Linked DNA regions of Homo sapiens. The protein of the gene in region 2 interacts with the protein of the main gene of each other region in a pairwise test. Each region holds a gene or a part of one and is shown on either strand. Other genes may lie near its edges.

The links. The genes of interacting proteins can lie anywhere in the genome.
Region 1: the proteins of SH3GLB1 (region 2) and TMEM115 interact in binary tests that used the Homo sapiens proteins (3 or more experiments, as listed by UniProt).

The regions. Positions count from the first base shown.
Region 1 is NC_000003.12:50,356,522-50,363,976, reverse strand, and holds the start of TMEM115 (transmembrane protein 115), read left to right. Parts: upstream 1-4,455; 5' UTR 4,456-4,913; coding exon 4,914-5,764; exon of another isoform or gene 5,765-5,859; intron 5,860-7,455. UniProt on the Homo sapiens protein: May play a role in retrograde transport of proteins from the Golgi to the endoplasmic reticulum. May indirectly play a role in protein glycosylation in the Golgi.
Region 2 is NC_000001.11:86,742,574-86,748,706, forward strand, and holds the end of SH3GLB1 (endophilin-B1), read left to right. Parts: intron 1-554; coding exon 555-662; 3' UTR 663-5,611; downstream 5,612-6,133. UniProt on the Homo sapiens protein: May be required for normal outer mitochondrial membrane dynamics. Required for coatomer-mediated retrograde transport in certain cells. May recruit other proteins to membranes with high curvature. May promote membrane fusion.

The DNA.
Region 1 (7,455 bases), on a different chromosome or scaffold from region 2:
AGGGGCTTACAAAGCCTTACACAGGGCGAGGGGTTGGTGGGAGGGTTGGCACCTGCACACTCCATCTCCTGCTCACCACCTGCCTCTAATCTGAGCTGCAGCCTGGCTGGTCCTCCCATTTCTAAAGCTGAATGTCAAACAGTGCCAAATGCTGGGGCAGGGGGTGAAGAACCCTCTGTCCCACCCCTAGCCACCAGTGTCCTCCAAGTGCCCCCTCACCTCTCCAGGTGCTCATTGTAACCATTTCTCACTAGTGTCAGGCCCCCAGTGGGACCACATGCCACTGCCTGCACCTTTCGGCAGAGGAACCCCCACCAGACATCACCCTTTGCCTTAGCAGGGGTGACTTTGTCTCTCCTGGCTGGGCCATCCTTCCGCCAATCTGGCCCTTACACACTCAGGCCTGTGCCCACTCCCTATCTCCTTCCCACCCCTACACACACACTCCCTGCTTGCAGGAGGCCAAACTGTCCCTCCCTTGCTGAACACACACACACACACACACACACAGGTGGGGACTGGGCACAGCTCTTCACACCATTCATTCTGGTCATTTCCCCCAAAGGCATCCCAGCCTGGGGGCCAGTGGGGAACTGAGGGCAAGGGGATATAGTGATGGGGCTCAGATGGACTGGGAGGAGGGGGAGGGTGATGCATTAATTAATGGCTTCGTTAATTAATGTCATGTTGCTTGTCGCTTTCTCAGTGTGTGTGTGTGGTCCATGCCCACTGCTGGTGCCAGGGTGGGTGTCCATGTGCACCCGGCCTGGATGCCAGCTGTGTCCTTCGGGGGCGTGCGTGTAACTGTAGTGTAGTCAGGTGCTCAATGGAGAATATAAACATATACAGAAAAATATATATTTTAAGTTTAAAAAACAGAAAAACAGACAAAACAATCCCCATCAGGTAGCTGTCTAACCCCCAGCTGGGTCTAATCCTTCTCATTACCCACCCGACCTGGCTGCCCCTCACCTTGGGCTGGGGGACTGGGGGGCCATTTCCTTTTCTCTGCCCTTTTTTTGTTGTTCTATTTTGTACAGACAAGTTGGAAAAACAACAGCGACAAAAAAGTCAAGAAACTTTGTAAAATATCGTGTGTGTGATTCCTTGTAAAATATTTTCAAATGGTTTATTACAGAAGATCAGTTATTAAATAATGTTCATATTTTCACTTCAAATGGTTCCCATCCACTGTATCAGCTTGGGGGTGAGGACTGGGTAGCTATGAAGACAGTTGGCCAAGACCTCAGAGTCCCACTTAGTGCTCTGCAGGGGGTGAAGACCATGGTAGCCCAGGTCCCTGTCAACCACAGGGCATGGCACTTGCTTCCACCAGTTATAATAGGTGCCAGGCCCTTGACATACATTGTCTCATAACATCTCAAAAAGCTGTCTTTTAAAAACAAGCAAGACAGGCTGGGTGCGGTGGCTCATGCCTGTAATCTAGCATTTTGGGAGGCCGAGGCGGGCAGATCACTTGAGGTCAGGAGTTTGAGACCAGCCTGGCCAACATGGTGAAACCCCGTCTCTACTAAAAATACAAAAAAATTAGCCAGGCATGGTGGCATGCGCCTGTAATCCCAGCTACTTAGGAGGCTGAGGCAGGATAATTGCTTGACCCCAGGAGACGGAGGTTGCAGTGAGCCAAGATTGCGCCACCGCACCCCAGCCTGGATGACCGAGCGAGACTCTTGTCTCAGAAAAAAAAAAAATACAAGCAAAACAAACACCCTCCCAGAGCCTGAAAGCCAGGACCCTGGAGGGAAGAAGACAGATCAGAGATGCTGGTTTAGTGGGGAGGTGGATCTGGCAGTCTGGTCAGACCACCAGGGCCTGACAGGGCCTCTGCCGGGAGCTATGAGTGAGCACCTGGCCAGTGTCCCTACGGCCCAGGAAGCCCTGACCACAAGTGCAGCAACGGCTCCCTCCTGGCCCACAGGAGCTTGAGGCCGCAGCTGCTTAAACTGGAGCCATAGGCCAAACTTCATTTTTGTGAATCCTCTCAAGCTTAGGCCCTAGTTCATTTTCACCCTAGAAGGTGTGACCTTTGCGATCTTCTCATGTGGAGAGAATTATAACCTGTAACCACCAGAGCACAGGTGTCCCTGCCTTCCCACCACAGTCCTCTCTCTCCTCCCAACACTCTGCTCTCTGCGCACTGACCTGGCTGAGTCCTCGCCACAGTCTCTGGGGTGGGTACTAGTGTATCCCCATACCACAGATGAGCAAACTAAGAGGAGAAAGCCTTTCCCCCCAGGTGAGAAGGCTAAAAACCAGCAAAGATTTTAGAGAAGAGGTGGCCACCAAGGGTTGGGGAGCTTGGATGCTAAATAGATGAAGGGGCTTCGAGGCCTCAGCCAAGATGGAGACTTTTTCTGTCTCCTCTGCAGGGTTCGGCTGCAGAGCAATGCCTAATCCACAACCCCCAAGACAGCTCCCATGGCCTGCAAGAGACCGTGCAATCTTGGATAGGGTTGTAAGATAAAATACAGAACACCCTATTTTGAATTTCAGATCATGAACGAGTTTTTAGTATGGAAGTGTTTCAACTATTGTGTGGGACATACCTATACTGAAAAACTGGGGGCTGGGCACAGTGGCTAACGCCTGTAATCCCAACACTTTGGGAGGCTGATGCAGGAGGATCGCTTGAGCTCACGAGTTCGAGATCAGCCTGGGTAGGATGGCCACCCCGCCCCTGCCCATGTCTCTACAAAATAAAAAAATTTTAAAAATTAGCTGGGCACAGTAGTGTGTGCCTGTAGTCGCAGCTAATCAGGAGGCTGAGGCTGGAGGATCCCTTCAGCCCAGGAGTTAGAGGTGGCAGTGAGCTATGATTGTGCCACTGCACTCCAGCCTTGGACAAAGCTAGACCCTGTCTCAAAAAAAAAAAAAAAAAAAAAAGGGGGCAGGGGGACATGATTATACTCGAAGATTACTCATTGTTTATCTGGAATTCAAATTTGACTGAGCATCCTTATTTTGATTTGCTAAAACTGGCAACCTTACCCAGATGTGGCAACCAGTGGGAACCCAGACCCCAGAAAAAAAGCATCAGCACCCTTTTTAACCTGTAGGCCATGCACACATCAGCACACACTGAAATCAGTGGCTGAAAGGAAGGGATCCTGTGTTTTATAAAAGCACTTTGTCATAGAATTATTTTAATTATATGGACAGCTTTTTGTTTTGTTTTGAGACAAAGTTTCGCTCTTGTTGCCCAGGCTGTAGTGCAATGGCATGATCTTGGCTCACCGCAACCTCCGCCTCCCGGGTTCAAGCGATTCTCCTGCCTCAGCATCCCGAGTAGATGGGATTACAGGCATGTGCCACCACACCTGGCTAATTTTGTATTTTTAGTAGAGATGAGGTTTATCCATGTTGGTCAGGCTGGTCTCAAACTCCCGACCTCAGGTGATCTGCCCGCCTCAGCCTCCCAAAGTGCTGGGATTACAGGCGTGAGCCACCGTGCCCAGCCTATATGTACAGTTTTTTAAAAGTAACTCCATATACAAAAAAAAAAAAAAGACACAGAACACAACCTGTCAGAAGTCACTGTGGCGTGAAGTGGGACCAGAACAGGCCTAGCCCAGGCTTGTGGAGAGACCTGGCTTGTAGAGAGACCTCTCATCCTCCGCAGTTATCAGAAGTCCCTGGTGGGGAGGAGGGTCACTGAGGGCTGCCCAGCCTCGTCCCTATGCGGGAGGGAGCCCTAGGTTCGTGCTCCAGGTCCACCTCACTTGGAAAAAGGGCAACGTGAAATAACAAACAAAAAACTTTTCCAAGTGGGAGAAAACAAACAAAAAAAGGCAACATGTGCAGCACTCGCTGAGCACCCAGGGTGGACTGGCATTTTACACCCCTTTCCCCTTTGATTATTAGGACAGGAAGATCATGTCATCAGCTACATTTTATGGCCCATGAAACTGAGTTTCAAAAAGGTTCAGGAACTTAACCAACCAATGCCACACAGCCTCCGAGGCAGAGCAAGGGTTCCAGCCTGGGTCAGGTCCCATTCACCAGACCACGGAGGTTCTGTTTCTCACACAGTGACACCTACCCACACGCCAGCCAACAAGGACACACTCGCTCAGAGGTACACGCACAAATAGAGCTACTCTTCCTAGGGAATTCAGCAAGTGTGGGGGCTAGAGCTGTGTTGCTTCCCGAACCCTCACCGCCGCTTTCAGGGGTTAGAGATGCTAATTCATCCCTTCCCACCTCCTGAGAACCGACGGAAACGGTCCCTGAGAACTACAACTCCCAGCACACCCCGCGCTCACCACAACGGGACCGGTCCGTGCTCATGGCCTCCTGGGACTTGTAGTTCTAGCCAGAACCCTGTTCAACTCTTCCCCGGCTGCAACCAAGGACTCCGTATCCCAGCATGCAGAGGAGCCGGAAGACAGGCGCTTAGAGGACAGCCCGCTGCCGCCGGGGACGCGCAGGCGCAGCACCCCTGTTTGTCGGCCCCCCGAGAGAAGAGGTACGGTCGAAGCCAGGAGCCAGGCCGAGCGGGAGCTGACCAGGCTTGACTCGGGTACAGAACGAGGCACCAGTCCCCTTGCGAACCGAAGGGCCTCGCAGTGGATGGAGGAGGCCCAGCCCTGAGGTCAACGCCAACCAGGCTAGCCTGGCACGGGGCCTACAGGGTGGGTAGGCGGGCGTGCCGCAGCCGTCCAGGGCCTTCCCTCAGGTCCCGGGCGAGGGGCCTACGCTGCGGCCCGGCAACAAGGCCCGACTCGGCCCCTCGGGACCAGAGCCCCACCCGATCGGAAGCGGATCCTTTACCAGGGCCATAGGCCAGTGACTAGGCCGGGCCTGGGCCTCCCATCGGGGCCGGACTAGGACGAGGCCCCGGGGAGGCCCCTGGCCTACCAGACCCTTTTCTCAGGCCGACAGCCGCCAGGAAGATGCAACGTGCCCTGCCAGGCGCCCGCCAGCACTTGGGGGCCATTCTGGCCAGCGCCAGCGTGGTGGTGAAGGCTCTGTGTGCGGCGGTACTATTCCTCTACCTGCTCTCCTTCGCCGTGGACACAGGCTGCCTGGCGGTCACCCCGGGCTACCTCTTTCCTCCCAACTTCTGGATCTGGACCCTGGCCACCCATGGGCTGATGGAGCAGCATGTGTGGGACGTGGCCATCAGCCTGACAACGGTGGTGGTGGCCGGGCGTTTGCTGGAGCCCCTCTGGGGGGCCTTGGAGCTGCTCATCTTCTTCTCAGTGGTGAATGTGTCTGTAGGGCTGCTGGGGGCCTTCGCCTACCTCCTCACCTACATGGCTTCCTTCAACCTGGTCTACCTGTTCACTGTCCGTATCCACGGCGCCTTGGGCTTCCTAGGTGGCGTCCTGGTGGCACTCAAGCAAACCATGGGGGACTGTGTGGTCCTGCGAGTGCCCCAGGTGCGCGTCAGTGTGATGCCCATGCTGCTGCTGGCGCTGCTGCTCCTGCTGCGGCTCGCCACGCTGCTCCAGAGCCCGGCGCTGGCTTCCTATGGCTTCGGGCTGCTCTCCAGTTGGGTATATCTTCGCTTCTACCAGCGCCATAGCCGGGGCCGAGGGGACATGGCTGACCACTTTGCTTTCGCCACTTTCTTCCCTGAGATCCTGCAGCCTGTGGTGGGTTTGCTGGCGAACTTGGTGCACAGCCTCCTGGTGAAGGTAAAGATATGCCAGAAGACGGTGAAGCGCTACGATGTGGGTGCCCCATCCTCCATCACCATCAGCCTGCCAGGCACAGACCCTCAAGACGCCGAGCGGAGAAGGTACTGTGAAATTTTCCAAAATCTTGTCAAGCTAGGAGCATACTGGTCGAGTCACATGCCATCTGTTGAGGTGTTCGCTGTACATAGGTGGAGACCTACAGTCAGGTATTGGGGCACATCCGGAAAGACAAAATCAGTCTTTGGCCTTAAGGAACTCAGCAGTTAGGTGTCTGGGGTCCACGAGGCACTTTTCTCACCACTCGGGCCACTTAATAAGTCTCAAGAAATGCAGTTTCCTTTGGTGCTGTGAAGTCCCAGTGGAGGGACACAGAACCCTGGCCTTGCCTCAGAATCTCAGAATCCTAGACATTGGGCCTGTGGGAGCCAGAAGCAACCTGCTGGTACTTTCCCCTGTGAGGAAGGGACAGGGAAGGAGGCCTGGGGTCCTCAAAAGGTGATCTGGGCCACTCCAATTTCCAAATGCTGTGTCCTCTTCCTGGGCTTTAACTCAGATGCTGTGCTTCTCTGCCACTTACTTATTGAGAGGGAAGCTTGGGGTATTACCACATTTACCTCTGTCTCCAGCAAGCATGTGTCACCAAAACCAGGGACAGGCTACATGACCCACTGAGGGAGCCTGCTGACACCAGGGAGTGGCGATGACCCTTTCATTATCTGTAAACCAAGCTATCCACAGCATCAGGAGTCCCAGCTGAATTATTCACTGAATGCACTTTGGCCAGGGCAGGAGGGATCTTTTTAAATTCAGCTTACTCTCTCTCCCAGATCTGTGGAGCCAGCAGAGTGGTCCCAGCCTTCATAAGATCCACAGCTCCATTTCCAACATTATTCCTCACTGTTTTGAGGCAATTACTCGAGTAGTAAAATCTGGGACGGGCTTTGTCTTTTGCATTGCCAAGGCTCCTGCTTTTGCTCACCTGTGAATGGGGTTGTGGCAGGAAGCTCTATGAATTTAGCTGCAGTTATCCCTGTATTTACTCTCCACTGGGCTATGGAATTGAGTGTGGGACACACTCCTTTCTTGAAGGAGTTCCAGCTGGGGAAGGGCCACAGATCACTATGGCCCAAGGTATGGTAGGTGTTGAAAAGTATATACAGCATGCTGCAGGGCATAATTCTGGGCCCTAGAGCTTGGGTCTTTATAGGTGATAAGCCCTAAGGACAGAAGTCTCTCTTAACCTTAGCTGGTATTAAAGATGGGGCCAGGTGAGCTGGGCCTGGTAGGAATTGAGCTGTCCCTCAGAGCCATTCAGGTGGGGCCAGGCCAGTGGGGACCCCTCCTCCACTGAGAGGTGTTGGAATGTTAGGGTTGGCTGGACATTCAAAAACCTCTGCCTAGGCCCAAGAAAATGGACAGGGGGGAAGCAGGTTGGTGGGGAGGAAGGGAGGGTCAAGAGGCGGGTTCTTGGCATAGCCTTATGGTTGTTAGCTTACATGGGGGTGGCGGTTATTCCTCCAGCCAGTTTGACATCTGACTGCATGGCCACGCCCAACTCCAAAGGGCTACCAGGAGAGGGAGGCAGGGTTTCCTATCTGTCTCTCTGGTCCTTGTGAGGAAGTGACTAGCGTAACACTAGCTCTCTGCCTTGGCAGGCTTTAGATGGAACTGGCAAGGGCATCATCAGGATGGCAGCCTGGGTAGCAGCAGGGAAAGACTGTCCTGTCTATACCAACTTGTCATGTGTGAGACTGACGGGCAGGGGGGAAGCGTGCTAGGGCTTTCTACACCT
Region 2 (6,133 bases):
TAATTAATATTCTTTAATAGAATATCATAGAAATATTTAAAACTTTTAACTGCCAAATAACTTGAAGATGTATAAAACTCCCTCCAATAAGATCCTTTATCTAGGCCAGACATGGTGGCTTACACCTGTAATCTCAGCACTTTTGGGAGGCCAAGGCAGTGGGATCACTTGAGGCCAGGAGTTCAAGACCAGCCTGGGCAACATAGCGACACCTCATCTCTACAAAAAATATGAAAAATTAGCTGGGCATGGTGGTGTGCGCCTGTAGTCCCAGCTACTCAGGAGGCTAAGGTGGGAGGATCGTTTGAACACGAAAGGTCAAGGCTGCAGTGAGCCGTGATCATGCTGCTGCACTACAGCCTGGGCAACAGAGTGAGACCCTGCCTCAAAAAACTAATAATAATAAATAAATCCTTTGTTTTTCAGCACAATTGATAATAACGTTTAAAGTCCTTTTGGTGAATAATTTAAACAAATTAAATACAAATCTGATTGGTTTTCTACTTGTTTATTTTTTTAATGTAGTTAATAACTGGAAGTATTTTATTTTGCAGGTGATCACTGTGTTCAGTGTTGTTGGAATGGATTCAGACTGGCTAATGGGGGAAAGGGGAAACCAGAAGGGCAAGGTGCCAATTACCTACTTAGAACTGCTCAATTAAGTAGGTGGACTATGGAAAGGTTGCCCATCATGACTTTGTATTTATATACAATTAACTCTAAATAAAGCAGGTTAAGTATCTTCCATGTTAATGTGTTAAGAGACTGAAAATACCAGCCATCAGAAACTGGCCTTTCTGCCAATAAAGTTGCATGGTAAATATTTCATTACAGAATTTATGTTAGAGCTTTCATGCCAAGAATGTTTTCTTACAAAATTCTCTTTTTATTGAGGTTTCACTAATAAGCAGCTTCTACTTTTGAGCCTCAACTTAAAGCAGAACTGTTTTCTACTGGATTTTTCATTAACAGCAAGCTTTTTCTTTTATGTAAAATAAATCTATTGTGAATTGATATCAGCGACTCATTTATTAGGTATAAATAATAGCCAAAGAATAAAATTAAAATTTATTTTAAACTTTCGGTCTTAAAAAGAGCTGTAGGATATAAACCTCTTTTGTGAAAAGTAGAATTTTCTGAATGCTTTCATAGACAAAAACGCATTTAAACTATGTTTACCTGGTTTTCCAACAGAAATCAAATGATTTTAATATTATGTTTTGATGGGTTATTTTCAGAGTTGTTTGGTTTTTTAAACACTACTGAATGGTTTCTTTTAAATTTAAGAACAACTAGTTCTTGAAAAGCAATACCGTATTTCTCTGATAAATTTGTAGTTAAGGTTCTAGAAAATCTAGGACAAATTTACTTCATTAAACATAAAGTTTTTAAGATTATTCAGTTGGCACAATTTAATGCATAATTGGGATTGGATCCATTTACTGTACTGTGGTACAGTAAAGAGAATGTGTTCTTATTGAACAGCAGATTTGTATACAAATACGGAATAATGCAACTACATTATAAATTGTATACGAACAAAATAAATTGGGTCACTCTGAGCTTACTATTAAAACATTGAAAATTTATTAATGAACACAGGCTATCTTGATGAGGATCTCTGCTTATGAAACACATACTAATGAAATTATTAGTGACACATTGGAAGCTAGAAAATTGCTGTTGGGGCCATTGCTATAAATCATTGTTTCCATGTTAAGACTTCTGTTCTAATTCATTCATTCAACAAACATTTGTTGAGGGCCAGATACTGTGCTGGTCAACTGGGGATACTGTCCTGAACAATATGCACACAGTTCTTGCCCCTGCAGAGCTTAAAGACCATTAAAGGATACAGAAAATTAAGCAATTATCCTATAGTAGGATTCGTGGTGTGATGGGGAAAATACAAGGTACTGTATTTGGGAGTCATGTAACTCCAGTTTTGGGAGTGAGAGAGGGTCTGGGGAAGAACTGTTCCAGATAAAAAGATGTGTAACCAAGATAGCATAGCACATTCTGACAACTAAAGCAATTTACTCTAACTTAAGCATGAAGTACAAAAGTATAGTTCATTTATTGAGGGAATGTTAAGCTATTAAAATGATACTTTTTGGTACTTTTAAAAAAATGAATACTTAAACACCGTTTTAAAATTTTGTGTTAAGAGCTCCTAATAAGAACTTGGTAAACATGTTGACAATTTAACTCACAGTCTAAACTTTAAAAGTAGTAGTTACCCTTTTATTTCTGTGCCATGAGACAAATTCTTCTGCAGTTTTATAGTTGTACAAGATGTTTTGACTCACTCTCAATTGCCATATTCTTAAAGAAACCCTGAAAAGCTGCTCAAGCTGGTCAGTTTTCTGTAAAACCAAGTAAATGAAATTTTCTCTCCCCTCAGAAAGGAAGTTCTACAGCCTAGAGTACCATCTATTGTGTTTTATAAGTCCAGATTTAGGCTTTGAAAGATCATACCAAAACTTCAGATCGACTTAAACAGCAACTATGAATTAGGTTTATGGGAAATGTAGTAATACAGGGGAAAGAATATCGGTAATGGAGTGAAATGGTCCTGGGTTCAAATCCAGTCTTCCTCACATATTGTGCTCTTTAAGCTTCAAATGAGATGTATAACTGCCTTTTCCTTACCAGTAAAATGAGGACAATAATTATGACACCATAGGGTGGTTGTGAGGATTAGCAAATGTTATCTTGTATTTCAGGTGCCTTTCAGGGAAAGGCTTGGCACATAGTAAACACATCCTGTAAATATCAGTTTCCCCTTGTTAGCCCCTGTAGCATCCTGACCTACCAAGTCTATAGGCCTTGCATATCACTGTGCACCAGAGATACCTCTTTTACATCTGGGCTCTGTTTTCTCTCTATCAATCCTATCCTCCACCCTCTTTAAATCAGACCCCAGGTTTAACCTTCCCACAGTCAGTATAAATCATTTTTCAGAACTTTCAGCTTTCCATCAAGTGAAAGTTGATTTTAGTTACCCAGTAATGTACAGAAACCTTCAATAATGTTAAGCTTCAAAGGCTTCTGGTACGTTTGTCTACCACAGAACCACCACAATATATATGCTTGTTCTTAGGTTTATTGCTTTTTATTTTAATGGGGTTTGGTTGTTTGGGTTTTATTTTGGTTTTGGCTTATTTTAAAGTCAAGTTTAGTTTTTACTCAGGTAAAGGCCTGAAGTTTCTTGGGCGTGGAAGAAAAAGCTTGGGAAGCCTATTAATTCATGGTGCAGTTCAGAATTGTTTAAATAAGCTCTGTGCCACTGAGCTTAATCTGAAAGTATAGTGACATGTGAAGGATGCACATATGAATGAAAAACTAAAATAATTGTAGGCTCTTCTATAAATGAAAAAAAAAGTGATTGGATTGTGTCTACCTTTTTCCTCAAAGTAATCTAACCTAAACGGTCATGGTGTTAAAACTTTTTATGGTGCTAATCAGAAAAATTGATGTTGCAAGAAATGAGGTCTCAAAAATGGGAATGTGCCTCCTCACTCTGCGTCACATGGGAAATAAATCCTGAGGCCAGGATCACCAGTGGGGTAGAGTCATCTTCATAGTCTCCTGTTATCCTCCCCCTGAACAAAGAACAAAGTGAGACTGGGAAGCTAGTGTTGGGGAAACATTTCTGGGATAAACTGTGGAGTGGAGAAGACAATGGAGGGCAAGGCAAAAACCCACAGACTTGTTTACCCATAGAGGCCCCACTCACCTCCATGCTGACAGAATTCCAGAAAAATTCCTTCCCTATCTCCCAAACACCTGAAATTCTGAAATATTGCCCTACTATTTAGCACTTTAAGCTTCAGTGAGGTGCTGTAATGGAGAGATAGCTTCATAGTTTAGCCTATAGCCAACTTTGCCTCAAGACCTCCAGATAAGATGAAGTGGCTTTTACCTCATGTGAGTCTCAAACGCTGGAGAGAGAGTTCCACAACCACCCCTGCCCTTTCTCCCATATTACGCTCATTAGAAAGTCTACTCAGGGCTGGGTGCCGTGGCTCATGCCTGTAATCCCAGCACTTTGGAGGCTGAGGCGGGTGGATCATCTGAGGTCAGGAGTTCGAGACCAGCCTGGCCAACATGGGGAAACCCTGTCTCTACTGAAAATATAAAAATTAGCCGGGCATGGTGGCGTGCACCTGTAATTCCAGCTACTCGGGAGGCTGAGGCAGGAGAATCACTTGAACCCCAGAGGCAGAGGCTACAGTGAGCCAAGATTGCACCACTGCACTCCAACCTGGGTGATAGAATAAGACTCTTGTCTCAAGGAAAGAAAAAATGTCTACTCAGTAGAGCAGTGATTGGCAAAGTGTGAGACCCCAGACCGGCAATATTGGCATCTCCTGGAGACTTGTTTAAAATGCTGATTACTATTTTCAAGAACTTTCTACCTTCATTTTTACTTATTTTTTGTTTTCAAGGGCTCATGGAATCAGTCTTCCATGTGACAGCTTTTTAAATATTTTAAGACAAAAACTGAGTCTTCTAATCTTAATTGTGTTCTAGCAGTAGTCATTGTAATTATAGTTATTTTTATAATTTATTTGTTTAGTGTATATCTGTCACTCTAGAATGTAGGCTCCCTGAGATAAAAACTATAATTCTTTTGATGGCAGTTACATTCCCAACTCTTAGCACAAGATCTAGGACATAGTATGAACTCAATAAATTTTTGTTGAATGAAAGAAAAATGCAAATTTATAAGCCTTTTCAGAGACCTACTGAATCAAACTCTGAGAGTGGAGCCCAGCAATCTGTTGTAAAAGCTGTTTGAGTAATACTGTTGCACTCTAAGCTTGAGAACCACTGCAATAGAACTAAGAGAACATTCATTTCACCTTCAGGCCTATTCTCTGACATCACTTGAAAAATCCTCTCTGCCTTCTGTAACCCTTAACCAACAACAGTGCCCTGTCCATGTAGGGGAAACTTCTGGGCTGTATTACAAGTGGGTAGGAAGGTATAAGGATATCATAGTGGGAAGTATTGCTTAGAATGCCAGTACTTGTTTGCTGTGGAAGGTTTCTAGGAATGGATTGCTTAGTCTAAAGTAAGCACTACCACCATCCACGTTTTCACTCAACACAGTGCCTTTTAATTGGTGACTAACATCAAAACACCTTGACAAACCGTTAAAACAGTATCAGAAACCATGTGTACATCCCTGTGCCTCTTAGATTGCTAAGTTCTGCTCTCATTCTTACTTCAAAGGACACTTTTTAAAGAATTGTTAATGCTTTTTTATAATACAAGTCATAGCCCTGTTGGCAAAAAGAAAAAAGATTCAGTGAGAAAGAAAAATCACTGATAATTCCATCATCCAGGGAGAACCACTGTTATTTAAGTATATGGCCTTCCAGACTTTTCTGTGCATTTATAGATATTTTTAATGGGATCAAAGTGTACATACTGTTTTGTAACTTTTTTTCACTCAACAATACCATGACTGTCTTGCTGTGTCAAGTATATTTCTACATCTCTTAATGGCTGCATGATATTCCATCATATGTGCCACATTTTATTAAACTACTGTTCAATTTTTAGGTTTCCAACTTTCATTAATAAAGTGCTTTAAAGAACATTGTGTTGCTAAATCTCGTATGTGTTCATATTTTCTCACGATAAATGCTTTGAAGTGGAATTGCTAGTGAAGAGGGTATGCCAGTTTTTAAAAGCTTTTGTTACTGCCATGTTGCCCCCTAGAAAACTCTAAGCAATTTATACTTTTATCAGCAGTATATGAGAGAATACTGTTTCTTTTGGAGGGCTTCCAACTAGAATGTTCTTGGAGTCTTTGGTTTAAAAATAAAGGGTAAGAGGGAGATAAAAAGATCCTGCAAAATTAAAGTCCAGTCTTAAATGTTTCTTAAATTATGACATTCATTTACTGTTCTTCCCTCTTTATCATATATTTTGTATTACTTTGGAAATGTTTGTAGTACTAGTTGCCTCTTGCTTTTATTCAGTCTCCTGGAAGCATTATTACCTTTCTGACATTTGCAAAGACAGTAGAAGAACAATCTTAAGTAGACTTGAATCTTGAGGTATCTTTGATGCAGGTGTACTGTTGATGGATTTAGGGAATGTAGCCGTAGTGGGGAAA